Regions from separate parts of the Homo sapiens genome. Here region 2 is linked to region 1. The links come from fine-mapping of genetic effects on gene expression. Tissue or cell type: whole blood. Region 1 holds a variant in brackets; the other region holds the start of a gene. All regions are shown on one strand. Distances are from middle to middle.

Region 1 (8,108 bases):
AGAGTTGAAATATTGTTCACTGGTGTAGAAAAAGCCCACATATTGGTGTCATACATGTTAGAAGTAAAAACAATGAGAGATAAAGGTACCCATATGATGCTTAGCTTTCTCCATTTAACTTGAAGTGGTAAAATATTGATTCTAAGTAGACTGTGAAAATTTTGTTAACTGTGTAATGTAATTCCTTGAGTAAACACTTTTAAAACTATGAAAAAATACATAGTTAAATATACAACAGATAAGTATAGTATGCTACAAAATGTTTGTATAATTGGAAAGAAGGTAGGAAAGAGAAAACAAGAATGAAAAACAGAAGATAAAACAAAACAAATAACAAAATGGTAAACCTGAAGGCAAATACATCAATGCTAACAGACATCTATAGAGCACGTTAGCCAAAAACAAAATATTCATTTTTCTATATATATACACGAAACCTTCTCCAGGATAGATTATATGTTAGGCCAAAATCAAACTTGAATATATTTAAAAGGACAGAAATAACACAAAGTATGTTCTCCAGTCACTTTGGAATAAAATAGGAAATTAATAACAGGAAAAAATCTGGGAAACTCACAAATATATAGAAATGTAAAGACACACTCCTAAATAACCAATGGATCAAAGGAGAACTCAAAAGGGAAATCAGAAAATACTTGGAGATGTATGAAAATGAAGATAAAACACACCAACCTTATGGAATCCAGTGAAAGCAGATGAGGGCTTAGAGGACAATTTATAGCTGTAAATGCTTATATCAAGAAGGAAAAAAATAAATCAATAAGCTAATATTCCACTTAAAGACACTGGGGAAAGAAGAGCAAACTAAATCTAAAGCAAGCAAAATGAAGAAAATAAAGATTAAAATGAAAAATAATGAAATAGAGAATAGAAAGACAATAGAGGAAATCAATAAAATTAAAAAACTGGTTCTTTGAAAAAAATCCAACAAAACTGACAATCCTATAGCTAGACTGGCCATGAAAAAGAGAAGATTCACATTCCTAGCATCAGAAATAAGAGAAGACATTATTTCTGACCTTGACAGAAATACAAAGGGTTGTAAAGGAAGAATATGACAGCAATTGTACATCAACAATGAAATAACTTAGATAAAGTGGGAAGATTTCTAGAAAGATATAAACTACCAAAACTGATTTAAGAAAATATCAAAAGTCTAAAAAGAATTATAATAATCAAGATTGAATAGCTAAGCAAAAAATCTACCCACAAAGTAAAGCCCTGTATCAAGTGGTTTCACCACGGAATTCTACTAAATTTTTTTTTTTTTAAATGAACACCAATTCTTTACAAATTCTCTTAAAAAAGAGGAGGGAATACTTTACAATTCATTTTATGAGGCTAGTTGCCCTGATACCAAAACCAGACAAAAACCTCATAAGAAATAAAAACTAAAGATGAATATATCTTATGAATAGATGCAGACATCATGAACAAATACTAGCAAACCAAATCCAACAGCATATAAAAGGAAATATCCACCATGACCAAGTGGAATTTTTATCCCAGGAATGCACAGTTGATTCAACATTTGAAAAATCAATTAATGTAATGCATAATAACAACAGAATAAATACAAAAATTACATGATCATTTCAAAAGATGCAGAAAATACATTTGGAAAAATCCACACTCTGTCATAATATAAATACTCAAGAAACTAGGAATAGAAGAAAACTTCCTCAACCTGATAAAAGGTAACTATAAAAAACTCACTGCTACTATTATCCTTAATTGTGAAAACATGGATGCTTTCCCTCAAGATGAGAAATAAGACAAGGATGATCGCTCTCTTCACTTATATACAACATTGTTCTAGAAGTTCTAGCCAGGGCAATTAGGCAAAAATAAAAAGAAAAAGCCATCAGTTTGGAAAGAAAGAAATAAAACTGTAGATGTTATGATCTTGTATATATAATAGTCTAAGGAATTCACTTTAAAAAAACTATTGGCACTAACAAGCTCAGCACGGGTGCAGGATATGAGATTAATATACAAAAATCAATTGTGTATTTTTACATATTTGCAATGAACAATCTGAAAATGTAATTAAAAATATTTGTTTATGATAGCATCAAAAATAAATTCTTAAGAATAAATTTAACATAAAAATTGCAAAACTTACTATACTCTGGAACTATAAAACATAATGAAAAAATCAAAGATCTAAACAAAAGGAAATATATTTCATATTCATGGATTAGAATACATAACACTGTTAAAATGACAATACTCCCCAAATCGTTACACAGGTTAAAAGCAATCCCTATCAGAATCACAGAGATTTTTTGCAGACATCGACAAACTGATTCGAAATTCATATAGAATTGCAGGGAATCCACAATAGCCAAAACAATCTTAAAAATGAAGAATAAACTAGGACTCATACTTCCTGATTTAAAAATTTACTACAATGCGATAGCAATCAATCAAGACAGTGTGGTACTGGCATAAAGATAGAAATACAAATCAATGGAATGGAATTGAGAGTCTGGAAGTATATCCATACATCTGTGGTCAACTGAGTTTTGAAAAAGGCTCCAGGACCGTTCAATGGGGAAAGAATAGTCTTTTCAACAAATTATACTAGGTGGAATGGATAGTCACATCCAAAGAATGAAGCTTGATCCTTACCTCACACTGTATAAAAAATTAACTCAAAATAGATCAAAGATCTAAATGTAAAACAAAAAAACTAAAACTCTTAGAAGAAATCTATTAGTTAGGGTTCCCTAGAGGGACAGAATTAATAGGATGGATGTAGATGTAAAGGGGAGTTTATTAAGGAGCATTAACTCACACAATTACAAGGTGAGGTCCCACAATAGCCCATCTGCAAACCGAGGAGCAAGGAAGCCAATCCCAGTCCCAAAGCTGAAGAACTTGGAGTCCGATGTTTGAGAGCAGGGAGTATCCAGCATGGAAGAAAGATGTAGGCTCAGAGGGTAAGCTAGTCTAGTTTTTTCACATTCTTCTGTCTGCTTTTATTCTGGCTGAGCTGGCAGCTGATTAGATTGTGCCCACCCAGATTGAGGGTGGGTCTGCCTTTCCCAGACCCACTGATTCACTGATTAACTGATTCAAATGTTAATCTCCTTTGGCAACAGGCTCACAGACACACCCAGGAACAATACTTTGCCTCCTTCAATCCAATCAAGTTGACACTCAGTATTAATCATCACAAGTCCACCCCTTGTCAACTTGAACCCATACACATCTCCTGAAATCATACATAATCTGCAAATAAAGACAATAATAAGGTAATAATAATTATGCCTAACATAATACAACCATCCTTCATACAACCAGAAACACACCAATCCCCAATTCAAATGCTATTACATAAAGTTAACAACATTTAAATGTTGATATGAAGTCAATAAATCTTATGTCACTAAAGGAAAAAGGAAATAAAATGAAGATATTTTCTTTTTTTTTTTTTTTTTTTTTGAGATGGAGTCTTGCTCTGTCACCCAGGCTGGAGTGCAGTGGCGCGATCTCGGCTCACTGCAAGCTCTGCGTCCCGGGTTAACGCCATTCTCCTGCCTCAGCCTCCCCAGTAGCTGGGACTACAGGCACCCACCACCACACCTGGCTAGTTTTTTTATATTTTTAGTAGAGACAGGGTTTCACCATGTTAGCCAGGATGGTCTCGATCTCCTGACCTCGTGATCCACC[C/T]GCCTCAGCCTCCCAAAGTGCTGGGAATACAGGCGTGAGTCACCGCGCCCGGCCAATGAAGATATTTTCTTAGTACAAGTGTATACATGCACAAACGTGTTCTTAACGAAGGAGGAAATACTCATGACAATTACAGTCCTTGTTTTTGCAGCTGGTCATGTGGTCATAGCTGGTATTGATGACTACCTTCTTCTACTACCCATTTTGTATTCCCTTTGCCTTCAGCAAGCACCTCAGGAGGTCGTGGTTTTTTTCCTGGTGGAGTGACCCAAACCTTCATTCCTGAAGAGTCTGAGCCATTTATAGTCCTGCCTGGATTGGGCTGTTGTAGTTTCCCATTGACCTTAATCATAGGGCATGGTAATACTAAGAGATGCCCTAGTGGATCTCCTGTATTCCACACATACTCTTCGTTACCTCCACGGTGGAGTGAAATTAGTAGTGAAATTAATAGTAGACTAATTTCATCTTGATAGTTCGAGTCAGTCACCCCAGCCAACACTGTAACTCCCTTCTCTTAGCCTGTTGACTTAAAGGTAGGAGTAGCCCAAAGTGTCCAGGTGGCAATCTTAACTTCCAGTTTAATGGAATTGTTGTTATGTCTCCTGGTGGCAGTGTTCCTTCTTGTGGAACTAAGACTCCTAGGCCAGCAGGATGTAATGCTGTGGGAACAGGAAGCAAAAATTTTGCTAGTGGATCACTAGGGGTGATGGTGAGTGGTGCCACTTCCACTTCCACTCCTTGATTCCTAGACTTGTGAATTGCAGCTATGGGAGAAACAGTACCATATATTGGATGCTGATTCAGAGCATACACAGCCTTCTGGAGAACTTTGTCCTGGCCCTGCAAACTGTTGTCACCTAGTTGGCATTGTAATTGTGACTTCAAAAGGCCATTCCACTGTTCTATTAATCCAGCTGCTTCAGTATGAGGGGGAACATGGTAAGACCAGTGAATTCCATGAGCATGAGCCCACTGTCACACTTCTTTAGCTGTAAAGTGAGTGCAATGCTGTGTGGAATACCATCACAGTGAATAAAGCATTTTGTGAGTTCACAGTTGGTAGTTTTGGCAGAAGCATTGTGTGCAGGATAAGCAAACCCGTATCCAGGGTAAGTGTCTATTCTGATGAGGACAAAGTGCTGTCCTTTCCATGATGGAAATGGCCAGTATAATCAACCTGCCACCAACCAGCTGGCTGATCATCCCAAGGAATGGTGCCATATTGACAGCTCAGTGTTTAGATTAGATGGTGCCCATTCAGATTGAGGGTGGGTCTGCCTTTCCCAATCCACTGACTCAAATGTTAATCCCCTTTGGCAACACCCTCACAGACACACCCAAGAACAATACTTTGCATCCTTCAATCCAATCAAGTTGACACTCAATATTAACCATCACAAACCATACAGAGAAATCTTTATGACTTTGGATTTCGCAAAGGATTTTTAGATATGATACCAAAAGCATGAGGAACAAAAGAAAAATAAATTTGACTTCATTAAAATTAAAATCTTTGTGACCCAAAGGACATCAAGAAAAAACATGAAAAGAACAACCCAAAGAATGGTAGAGAATATTTGTAAATCAAATAAGGTACATGCATCTAGAATACATAAACAACTCTTGCAACTCAATAATAATAAACCCTAAATAATCCAGTTGAAAAATGGGCAAATATCTGAATAGATTTCTCTAAAGAAGATAAACAAATGGACGACAAGCACTTGAAAAGATGCTTGAATATTAGGGAAATGCAAATCAACCAAATACAACTTCCTATCCACTAGGATGGCTAGAATGAAAAGGTCAGATAATCACAAATGCTGATAAGGATATGGAGAAATCAGAACCCTCCTACACTGCTGCTGAGAATGAAAAATATCATAGCTACTTTGGAAAACAGTTTAGCAGTTCCTTAAATGATTAAACATAGAGTTACCATACGACCAAGTAATTCCACTCATAGCTATATATCCAAGACAAATTGTGAAGACAAATTGTGATATTGTGAAATATACATTTGGTATTTGATCCAATTTCCTGGCATACAACTTCTGAAATCCTTAGTATCTCCAAAGTGATGTCTTTTTGTATGCTAATGATTGGCTGATGGTTGGCTTCTCCTAGGTAGCTTCAGGATGGGGGCTGGTTAACAGAAAGACCAAGGCAAAATTAGGAGGTCGAAACTTTCAGCTCACTCCTAGCTCCAGGGAGGGGAGAGGGGCTGAAGGTTAAGTTGATCATCGGTGGCCAACAGTTTAATAAAATGTCTACATAATGAAGCCTCCATAAAAACACAAAAGGACAGGGTTTGGACAGCTTCTGAATCACTTAGCATGTGGAGGTTCCTAAAGAGTGGAGCACCTGGGGAGGACATGCAAGCTCTGAGCCCATTCCTCATACCTCAACCTATACATCTCTTTATCTGTGTCTTTTGTAATATCCTTTATAATAAACTGGTAAATGTAAGTAAGTGTTTCCCTGACTCCTGTGAGCTGTTCTAGCCAATTTATCTAATTTAAAGAGAGGGTCATGGGAACCTCAACTTAAAGCTGGTTGGTCAGAAGTTCCAGAGGCCCAGACCTGCGACTGGTGCCTGAAGGTGGTGACAGTTTTCTGGGACTCAGCCCTCAACCTTTGGGATCTGACACTACCTCCAGGAAGAGTCAGAATTGAATTGGAGGACACCAGCCCACTGCAGAACTGATTGCTTGCTTGGTGTGTGGAGAAAACCCTCCAACATTTGGTCACAGAAGTCTTCTGTGTTGATTGCAGTTATGCTGTGAGAATATAGAAAATAAACAGTTTGTGTTTTTTCCATTTACAAATAGCATGACCACAAAATAACTGCTGCACGGATGTTTATAGCAGCATTATTCATAATAGCCAAAGGTGGACACAGCCCAAATGTTTATAAATGAAGCATGAAAAAAGTGGTATATCCATTATTTGGCCAGAAAAAAGAATAAGTTACTGATACATGCTACAACTTGGATGGAACTCAAAGCCCACATGTATATATCCATTCCTATGAGAGTCCAGAATAGGTAAATCTATAGAGACAGGAAGTAGGTTAGTGATTGCTGCTTAGGAATGGTGGGGGTGAGGATGAGCTGATGAGTGCTAAAGGGTATGATGTTTCTTTTTGAGATGAAAATGTCCTAAAGTTGACTGTGGTGATGGTTGTACAACTCTGAATATCCTAAAAACCCACTGAATTTGTAGTAGAGACAGGGTTTCAATATGTTGGTCAGGCTGGTCTCGAACTCCTGACCTCAAGTGATCCACCTGCCTCGGCCTCCCAAAGTGCTAGGATCACAGGCATGAGCTACTGTGCTGTGGTGGCAGGCACCTGTAATCCCAGCTACTCGGGAGGCTGAGACAGGATAATAGCATGAACCCAGGAAGCTGAGGTTGCAGTGAGCTGAGATTGTGCCATTGCACTCCAGCCTGGGTGAGAGGGCGAGACTCCATCTCAAAAAACAAAACAAAACAACAACAACAAAAAAACCCACTGAATTGTATAGTTTAAGTGGAAAGACAACTTAAAAGACCAAGAAATTGTATGGTATACAAATTATATCTCAATAAAGTTGTTAAACCTAACCCTAAAAAGAAAAAAAAGCAAAAAATAAAGGATGAAAAAGATATACTGTGTAAACACAAATCAAAAGAAAGCTGGGTGATTAGTATCAGACAAAATAGATTTCAGAGCAAAGACAATTACCAGGGATTACAAGGGACATTACCTAATGACAGAAGTGTCAGTTCACCAAGAAGACACCTAACAACAGAACTTCAAATTGCACAAAAGAAAAACTGACAAAATTGAAGGTAAAGAACGAATTCACAATAATAGTTGAATATTTCAACATGCCTGGCTTAGTAATTGATAGAACCATAAGCAGACAATCAGCAAGGATAAAGAAGAGGCAAACAGCATCACCATTCAGCTGGACCATATTGACAATTGTGGACCACTTCACCCAACAACAGCAGAATAAACGTGCTTTTCAGGTGCACATGGAATAGTCACATACACAGAGCACATCTTACGTTATTAAAAGACACTTAACCAATTTAAAAGAACTGAAAAATATGAAGTATGTTTCTGCCCACATAATTTTAAATCAGAAAATAACTAAATATTTTAATATTATCACAAGATAATATTCTTTAAAAATTTTTTTATTTTAATAGTTTTGGGGGAACAGGTGGTATTTGGTTGCATGGAAAAGTTATTTAGTCATGATTTCTGACATTAAGGTGCACCCATCATCCAAGCAATGTACACTGTACCCAGTGTGTAGTCTGTTATCCTTCAGCCTCTCCCACCCTTTCCCCTAAGTCCCCAAAGTCCATTATATCATTTTATTCCTTTGCGTCTTTATAGCTTAGTTCCTGCT
Region 2 (8,108 bases), 110 kb before region 1:
CACGTGTGGTGGCGTCCAGTGCTGAGTGGCGGAGAACATGAATAGGATAAGGGGAGGAGGGGAGAGGAGGGGAAGCGGAGGCAGGGCAAGCTAGGAGTGCAGCCAGGGAGGGCCTCACTGAAGGGAAGCCACTGAGCCACGAAGCACCTTTCTCCTAAGGATGCTCAAGAGAAATGCAGACCCACGATCCCTCCCCTGCATTCGTGAAACCCATAAAAGCCTGAAACCTGGTAGTTTTTTGTAATTCATTTGGCAACAAAACATAACCTGAACTAGCATAACGCTATTTATCGTTACTACCCCAACTCAGTTTTTAGACTTCACTTGCTTCTCTGCAGAATTTGTGTCATTTGATTTTAGGGTGCTACTTCAGATGCCACCAGGACTGTTAACTTGAACACGGTATGTGCACTGCATCATGAATGTTATTCACGACATGGTATGCACACAGCACTGCATCACACGTGTTACCCAGAACCTGGGGCCACACTGGATCACAAACCTGAACACCGTGAAACTCATCTGACTCTAAGACTTCAAAGAAGCCACTGTGGAGCGGCAGCTTATTCATGGCAGTAGGCCTCTAGCCAGAACTGCAAGACTTAACGAGACTGAAGTAAAAAGAGCAGCTTGCAAAAAATGCACATGGAAAAAGCCAGCAGCAACACAGGATATAAGTCAAGCAGACACTTCAGGATAAATCAAATTTTAGAAGGGAAGATTCCAAGTAAGAAGATCAAGTTGTCACACATTAGCTTTTGTAAATAATTGAGTCCTGTTGAATTTGTATAGAATTTACAGTTAAGATGGTATGAAAACTTAGTTGTACATTGGAACTAATTATGCAAGCTCTCAGTATAAAAGGAAAAAAGGGTTCAAGCGTGGTGGCTCACACCTATAATCCCAGCACTTTGGGAGGCAGAGGCAGGAGGATTGCTTGAGCTCAGGAGTTCAAGACCAGCCTGGGCAACATGGTGAAACCCTGTCTCTACAAAAATTAGCCAGGTGTGGTGGCATGAACCTGTAGTCCCAGCTACTTGGAAGGCGCTGAGGCAAGAGGATAGCTTAAGCCCAGGAGGTGGAAGATGCAGTGAGCCCAGATCACATCACTGCACTCCAACCTGGGCTACACAGCCAGACCCTGTCTCAAAAAAAAAAAAAAAGGATGAGCTGCAGGGTGAGAATTGGAGCTGGTAAAGCATTTTTTACCCTTGGGTGAAAAACCTTATTTTACATAGTCGGAACCTGAGGCTGGAAAGCTTAGCAACACCCAGGAAGATGAGACTATCAATATGCTTACAACAAAACTACCAAGACTCAGACGTTTGTAACAAACTCTCCATCTAAAACCAGGCAGAGTGATGTGACTGCAGGAGACCCCCTCCCACACAGATGCCCCCCTCCCCTATTCACGGAGAAAGTAATGGAGAAGCTAAAGAAAGTCAAAGAAGAAAGAAAAATCACCAAGGTCTCAAAACCAGTTAGAACTTGGGAAAATGCCCGCTGACCTATGAAGCCCTCGTGGTCTGAATCAACCATGTTCTCGCAAATCTTGCCTGCTCAAGTTTGTCCGATCATATCAGTTGCATGAATTATGGGCTGGGGTGGGGGATCCACATATGACAGCCTGTTTTATGCTAATGTTTACTTCCAGCCAGACATCATTCCAAGTTACATTCTGTACCTTAACTGATTTCTCCTGAAGCCAACTCTGTGAGGCTGACTGTTACTATTTCTACTTTACAGATGAGGAAACTGGGGCATAGAGAGCTCAAAGGTCCCACACCTGGGTGTGAACTAGCAGTTTCCACTCAGCCAGCAAGGGCCAGCATGCCACAGACTTCCCCAGTGAGAGGCTCTGAACCTCATGGCCAATAAATAAGGACATAAATGTAGCTCTTTTTCAGAAAATACACTTTCCGGAACACTGAAATATAATGCTACATTTTAATGTACATGATTAAAAATATATACCTAAGGTGTTTAAAAAGTAAAACCCTGGCCGGGTGCAGTGGCTCACGCCTGTAATCCCAGCACTTTGGGAGGCCGAGGCGGGCGGATCACCTGAGGTCAGAAGTTCGAGACCAGCCTGGCTATTAAAAATACAAAAATTAGCCAGGCGTGGTGGTGTGCATCTGTAATCCCACCTACTCAGAGGCTGAGGCAGGAGAATCGCTTGAACCCGGGAGGTGGAGGTTGCAGTGAGCTGAGGTCACGCCACTGTACTCCAGCCTGAGTGACAGAGTAAGACTGTCTAAAAAAAAATAAATAAGTAAAACCCACCTTTTCCACACCTACTATGTAAGTAAGAAATCCTATTAACCCGATCATTACCCAAATAGAAAGAAATAATATGGTATTCAAATATTGGTATCTTCCACAGAATTAAAGTTGGAGTTCTTTGCAGCACCGCCTGTTTACCCCTAATTAATTTGGGCGGCTGCCACACACACACACGCACACACGCACGCACACACGCACGCACACACGCGCACACACGCACGCACGCACACACACGCACACACGCACACACACACACGCGCACACACGACACACACGCACAGACGCGCACACACGACACACACGCACACACACGCACGCACGCACACGCACACGCACGCACACACACACGCACACACAAACGCACACGCACACACACACACGCGCACACACACACGCGCACACACACACACACGCGGAGGGCGAGCCAAGGGAAGGGATTCAGAACAGGATACTCAAAAAGAGGAAGAACCGTCGTTTCACCACCCGCCGCAGTGAAAGCTGAAATTAAGTGTCCCCTCCACGACTTCTTCGACCTCTGAGAGAACTTCGAGTGCAGGAACAGTGCTCCACCAAGCCTGCCACCTGCTTTGTCGCGTCCTAGGCTGGGAGCAGTCTGTGGGATGAGTTTCCAGTCCAGCTCCAGGCTGGAGTGTACCCAGGACCTCACCCTACCCCCTACTCCTTCCCAGGGGTCACCCCGGGGAGTGTTCAGGGCTCCCCAACCCACTTCTTCCCAGGAGTCACCCCAGAGCGTGCCCAGGGCTCCCCCCAACCCACTCCTTCCCAGAGGTCACCCCGGGGCGTGCTCAGGACTCCCCTCATCGCACTCCTTCCCAGAGGTCACTTCTGAGTGTGCTAAGGGCTCCCCCCAACCCACTCCCTCCAGGGGTCACCCCGAGGCGTGCTCAACTTCCCAACTTCTTCCCAGGGGTCACCCCGGAGCGTGCTCGGCTCCCCCCGCCCTCCCCAGTCGCTGCCCGGGGCTCAGCGACCGCCGACCCCGAGAGCTGCAGCCTTCACCCAGTGGAAAGCTCTAGGGCCCGGCTCCCACGCTCCCCACTTTACCTCGCAAGGTAACTCACCGCAGGCGCTTGTCCGCACCGCCCAGGCAAAGCAACGCCAGGCAGAGGCAGCCCAGCAGGGCCCCGCGCAGGGCTGCAGGGCGCATGGTGCCGACCTGCGGAGAGAACGCTGCCAGCTGCCGCTCCGGCTCCCACTTCCCACCTGCTGCCCGAGGAAGACTTCCGGGAGAAACGCTGTCTCCGAGCCCCCGCGCCGCCGCGCTCCCTCCGCTGCAGCAGCGGCCACCGGGTGCGCCCGGAGCCCTGGGACGGCCTAAACCAGTATCTCGCGGGCCCCGCGCCGGGCTCCGGGAATGGCCGCAGCAGCCCTGGCGACCCGGGCCCCTCGGAGCTCCCCTTCAGGATCGTGCACCAAGCGCGCACGTCCCGGGCTCTGCTTCGCGACCCACAGCGACCCCAGCTCCTCCACGCTGCAGCCGCCGTCCGCCCACGACCACGGTCAGTCGCGTTGCTCCCAGCCCAGGGCGCCCTGCGGGCCTGCACCGGAGCAGAGAGCCACGCCCCCAGGACGGCACGCCCCCGCCGGTGGACACGCCCCCCAGAACGGCACGTCCCCGCCCGGCGTTCACGCCCCGCCCCGTGGTTGGCTCAGAGAGGCCGAGGCAGGAGCAGCTCCGCGGGCCTTGAGGGCGTGTCAGGCGGCTGTGTTCCTTCGCCACGCAGGCGCCCCGCGCCTTTTCCCGCAGCTCTGCGCCACTCCCACACTCCCGGGTCCGAGCTAACCTAGACCACCCGTGAGGACCGCCCTCGGGGGGACCGCCCGTGTCTGCGCCATCCCCCGCCAGCAAGTGGGCGTGCGGGCCCCAGGGCCACTCTACTCTCCAGGGACAGCCCCCAGCCCGACCCGCGCACCCTGCAGGCCCGCGGTCCGCACGCAGCACCCGCTTTCAAAAACTGCGCCCTGCAAGCTGCCCGGGAGCTCCTGACTGCAGATGGTGCTTGGCCGCCCAGGCTCCCCGCAGCCTCCCGCCACCTCGGCGCTCCACTGCGCAGCCCGAGGGACGGCTCCAGAATTAGGAGGGGACCTACTCGGGTCACTCTCCTGGAAACCTCTCCAGTCTCCCGGTGCTAGGTGCTGGGAGCACCAACATTCCTAGAAGGGCCTGGCCCTCACCCAGCCCTGGGCCTCACCTGCCCCTCCCCGCGGGCCCCAGGAGCCCGGAAGTCATCTCTGTGGGGGCAGCAAAGAGCCGCCTCGGGGCGCGACCTGGGAAGTCATCTTGTGAGGGATCCCCTCCCAGAGGGACGGGCCACCCCCCACGGATGAAGGGGACTTCATGTCAGCCCCACCTTGGCGTAGCCAGGGCCAGTCCCATAGGCCCGGTCTCCTCCCCCAACACCCTGGCCTTCCCAGCCCTTCAGAGGCACGGGTTCCCCTGCACCCGCGGCCCCGCCCACGGGCTGTGCACCCGGCATTGTCTCTGCAGATGTTTCTCCTCTTTCCCTTCCCTGTCCGCACACCCACAGCTAGTTAAGGCTATTCCTATTTACACGTCGAGTAAACTGCGCCTTCCTCGGGGTCCTCTGCCACTGGTAACTGTCTAAATAGCAGGTGGGCCTGTAGCCTGCTCTCCCACAGGCCTGGACCTTGCCTGCATGCATTACCATTCTTTGAAACAAAATATTTAAATGATTAATCTGTTTTTCCCACTAGACTGCAAGGCAAGGCCCATGTCTATTTTGCCCACCTTGAGTCCCTGCCACTGAGCACAGTGGATGGGGGACAGTCGGTGCTCAATAAAATGCCACCTGTGGAACAGATGGGGGGGGAAAATGGCTGACACCTCCTTAGCTCCTCCAGGACCTCCTACAGGTCATGGTGTTATTCTCGTTCTCCTTTTCCCTAACGACTTATTTGTTTCTTTCCGGCTCCTTTCATTCCTTCCTCTCAAGAATATAGGCACACGCCACAGTTCTTTTTCTCTTTTCTTTTAAGCTAAAAAAATAATTTTCTTAAAACAAAAGTGCTTCCCAGAATCCTCATTTTCCTTTAAATCACAGTCCGGTGTGTTTAAACAGCCCCTTGTCAAGGAGGGCTGTTGTGACCACTGCCAAATATAAAGCAAATCTGGACTCGGGGAGGAGTGGTGTTATGAGGACCATTATTGCAGGGGCCTGGGGGCCTTTTGTCCCTACTAAAAATACAAAAATTTGCTGGGCGGGGGTGGCACGCGACTGTAATCCTGTGGCAGGAGGAGCGGCAGACAAAACCTCTCAGACACCGAGCTATAGAAGGAAGGGCTTTATTCAGCTGGGAGCATCGGCAAGCTACTGCCTTAAAATCCGAGCTCCCCGAATGCACAATTTCTGTCCCTTTTAAGGGCTCACAACATTAAAGATTTCACATGAAAGGGTCGTGATTGATTTGAGCAAGCAAGGGGTACGTGACGGGCTGCATGCACTGGTGGTCAGAGAGAAACAGAACAGGGCAGGGAGTTTCACAATGTTCTTCTATACAATGTCTGGAATCTATGAATAACATCGGTCTCTAAGTCATGAGTTGATTTTTAACTACTAGGTTTAGGCCAGGCAGGCCCAGGTCCGGTTTTGGGCCTGGCGCCGGGCTGCCTGTCTTTGATTTCACTTCCTTGTTTTTTTCTTAAAACAGGTACTGAGTATAAAACAATATAAAACAATATGAGAGGGTCTCTCTCTTCCCTCAATCCCAGCTACTCTGGAGGCTGAGGCAGGAGAATCGCTTGAACCCAGGAGGCAGAGGTTGCAGTGAGCCGAGATCGCGCCACTGCACTCCAGCCTGGGCGACAGAGTGAGACTCGGTCAACAACAACAACAAAAAGAATGAATGAAAGAAAGAAGAAAGAGAGAAAAAGAAAGAGAGAGAAAGAATGAACTGGGAATGGAGAAGTGGGATGAGAACCTGCCTTCATAGGACATTAGATCAGAGAAGGTTGACCCCGTGGCCAGCCTGTTCTCAGGGGGGACTGACTCAGGCTAAGATGAGGCCAAAAGTCCTCAGCCTCGGGGGAAGAGAGGAGCCTCACCAAGTTTGCTTAACAAGTGTGTTATTTCTATTGACTGGCTCATCATTGATGAGGTGAAGAATGGGAATTGGAGGATCTGTGTCTGGCTTTGTCCTAGGTAATGGGTAGGGGGTGGAGTGAGGGGAGCATCCGTCACTTTTCCTTTTTTTTTTTTTTTTTTTGGAGACAGCGCCCAGCTGCATCACTTCTATCACTCTTACCTATGTTATGTGGGGAAGAAGGGGGTCTCTCGCAGCAAGCCACTTTCCACAACTCACAGAGAGGAGATTTTTATCAGATAAATTCAGCAGCGTCCTACCCAGCCTGAAGAAGCCACCCAGTCATTTCCTGTTGCACTTCCTTGTTTATTTTCGACACAGTTCTCCCCACCCCTGAGAATTCTTGTCACTTCCTCCTGTACTGCCCACTTCTACTCCCCCACCCCCACATCGGAAGCTAATGAGGAGCTTCAGGCCCCTTGCTGGCATGGGCCCCACCAAGACCCCATATCTCATTCCGTATTCACAATTTTACCTTCTTGTTCTTAAAGAAGGACATCCAAATGGAAAAGCTCTCAACCCCCCAAAACTTGGATGTGAACCTGGAGCATCTGTCATCTGTCTTGTTCACTACTTGTCCACCTACCAGGATCCTAAACGGAACCCTACGTAGGGAAGAGGCAGTGGCTGTAAAGGCTGGATTTGGGTCTGGAAGCCGCCCAGCTTTACGAAAACAAAGAGGGCTCCAGCATCAAGCAGGTGGGCAGGGGCCAGAGTGGGAATTACATTGACTCACACAACATAGTGTAAAAGGGTACAAACTATGAGGTTTAAAAGATGCTGCTGGCTTGTATAGAAACATGTCCTTAGGAGAGGGGAGGGGGACAGGATGGCAACAGCCATGTCTATGAACAGACATCCTTAAATCCTTGTTAATTCTGAAGAGACCAAGATACTTTCACCACACAACCTCTTCTTGGCATTAGCTCCAGGTTTCCTGTTTCCATGCCAGCTTTTGCTGGGTTATGCTACAATAATACACCGCCCCCAAATCTCAGTGTCTCACTTAAACGGAAGTTGATCATTTATCATTCATTTGCCCATATTCCATGCTGGCTATGCGTCAGATGCCACTGTGGTCCACGGTATTTTTCACTCTGGAACCCAGGCGGTAGGAACAGCCCATATCTGGTGCTGGCCATTCCAATGGCAGAGCAGTGGCACAACTACACAGTTTAGGATTCTCATGCTCTAAAGAGCTTTGTCACACTTGAAAGAATCTCACCTTAAAAACTCCTTTCCATCCTGAATTACTTATTTGCTGAGAAAGTGAGGCCAGCTGCTGGGTGTTTCCCTGCCCTTTCTCTTCTTTTTCTTTTTCTTTTTTTTTTTTTGAGACAGAGTCTCACTCTGTCAGCCAGGCTGGAGTGCAGTCAGTGGCACAATCTCGGCTCACAGCAACCTCCGTCTCCCAGGCTCAAACAATTCTCCTGCCCTAGCCTCCCGAGTAGCTGGGATTACAGGCGTGTGCCACCACGTCCGGCTAATTTTTGTGTTTTTAGTAGAGACGGAGTTTGACCATGTTGGTCAGGGTGTCCCAGCACCTCTGGCCTTGCCATGCCAGCCTGGCCACTGTGGTACACATTTTGTGGAACTCTTTTATTCTGAGCTGTGGCCATGACAAAAGGAGGACAGGAGAGAAACAGAAAAGACCAGTCATGTGTTTCTCACAATATAATTTGTTCTTCAAGTGTGACTTAACT

What was found. PIP is the estimated chance that this variant, and not a neighbour inherited with it, causes the effect.
Region 2: it holds the start of RNASET2, and the variant in region 1 is fine-mapped to the expression of RNASET2 in whole blood (TOPMed, PIP 0.95).

Annotation. Positions count from the first base shown.
Region 1 is chr6:167,060,186-167,068,293 of GRCh38, forward strand. No RefSeq gene overlaps it. Among named protein-coding and RNA genes, the nearest start is that of CCR6, 59 kb to the right of the region's middle. The variant C/T (reference allele first, on the strand shown) is at 3,700.
Region 2 is chr6:166,952,732-166,960,839 of GRCh38, forward strand. RNASET2 (ribonuclease T2) reads right to left here and starts at 3,819. Exons shown (of 9, transcript NM_003730.6): 1 at 3,366-3,819. The coding sequence starts at 3,451. RefSeq lists silencers at 3,585-4,344, 4,385-4,484, 4,755-4,804, an enhancer at 5,769-5,888 and a cis regulatory region at 6,569-6,855.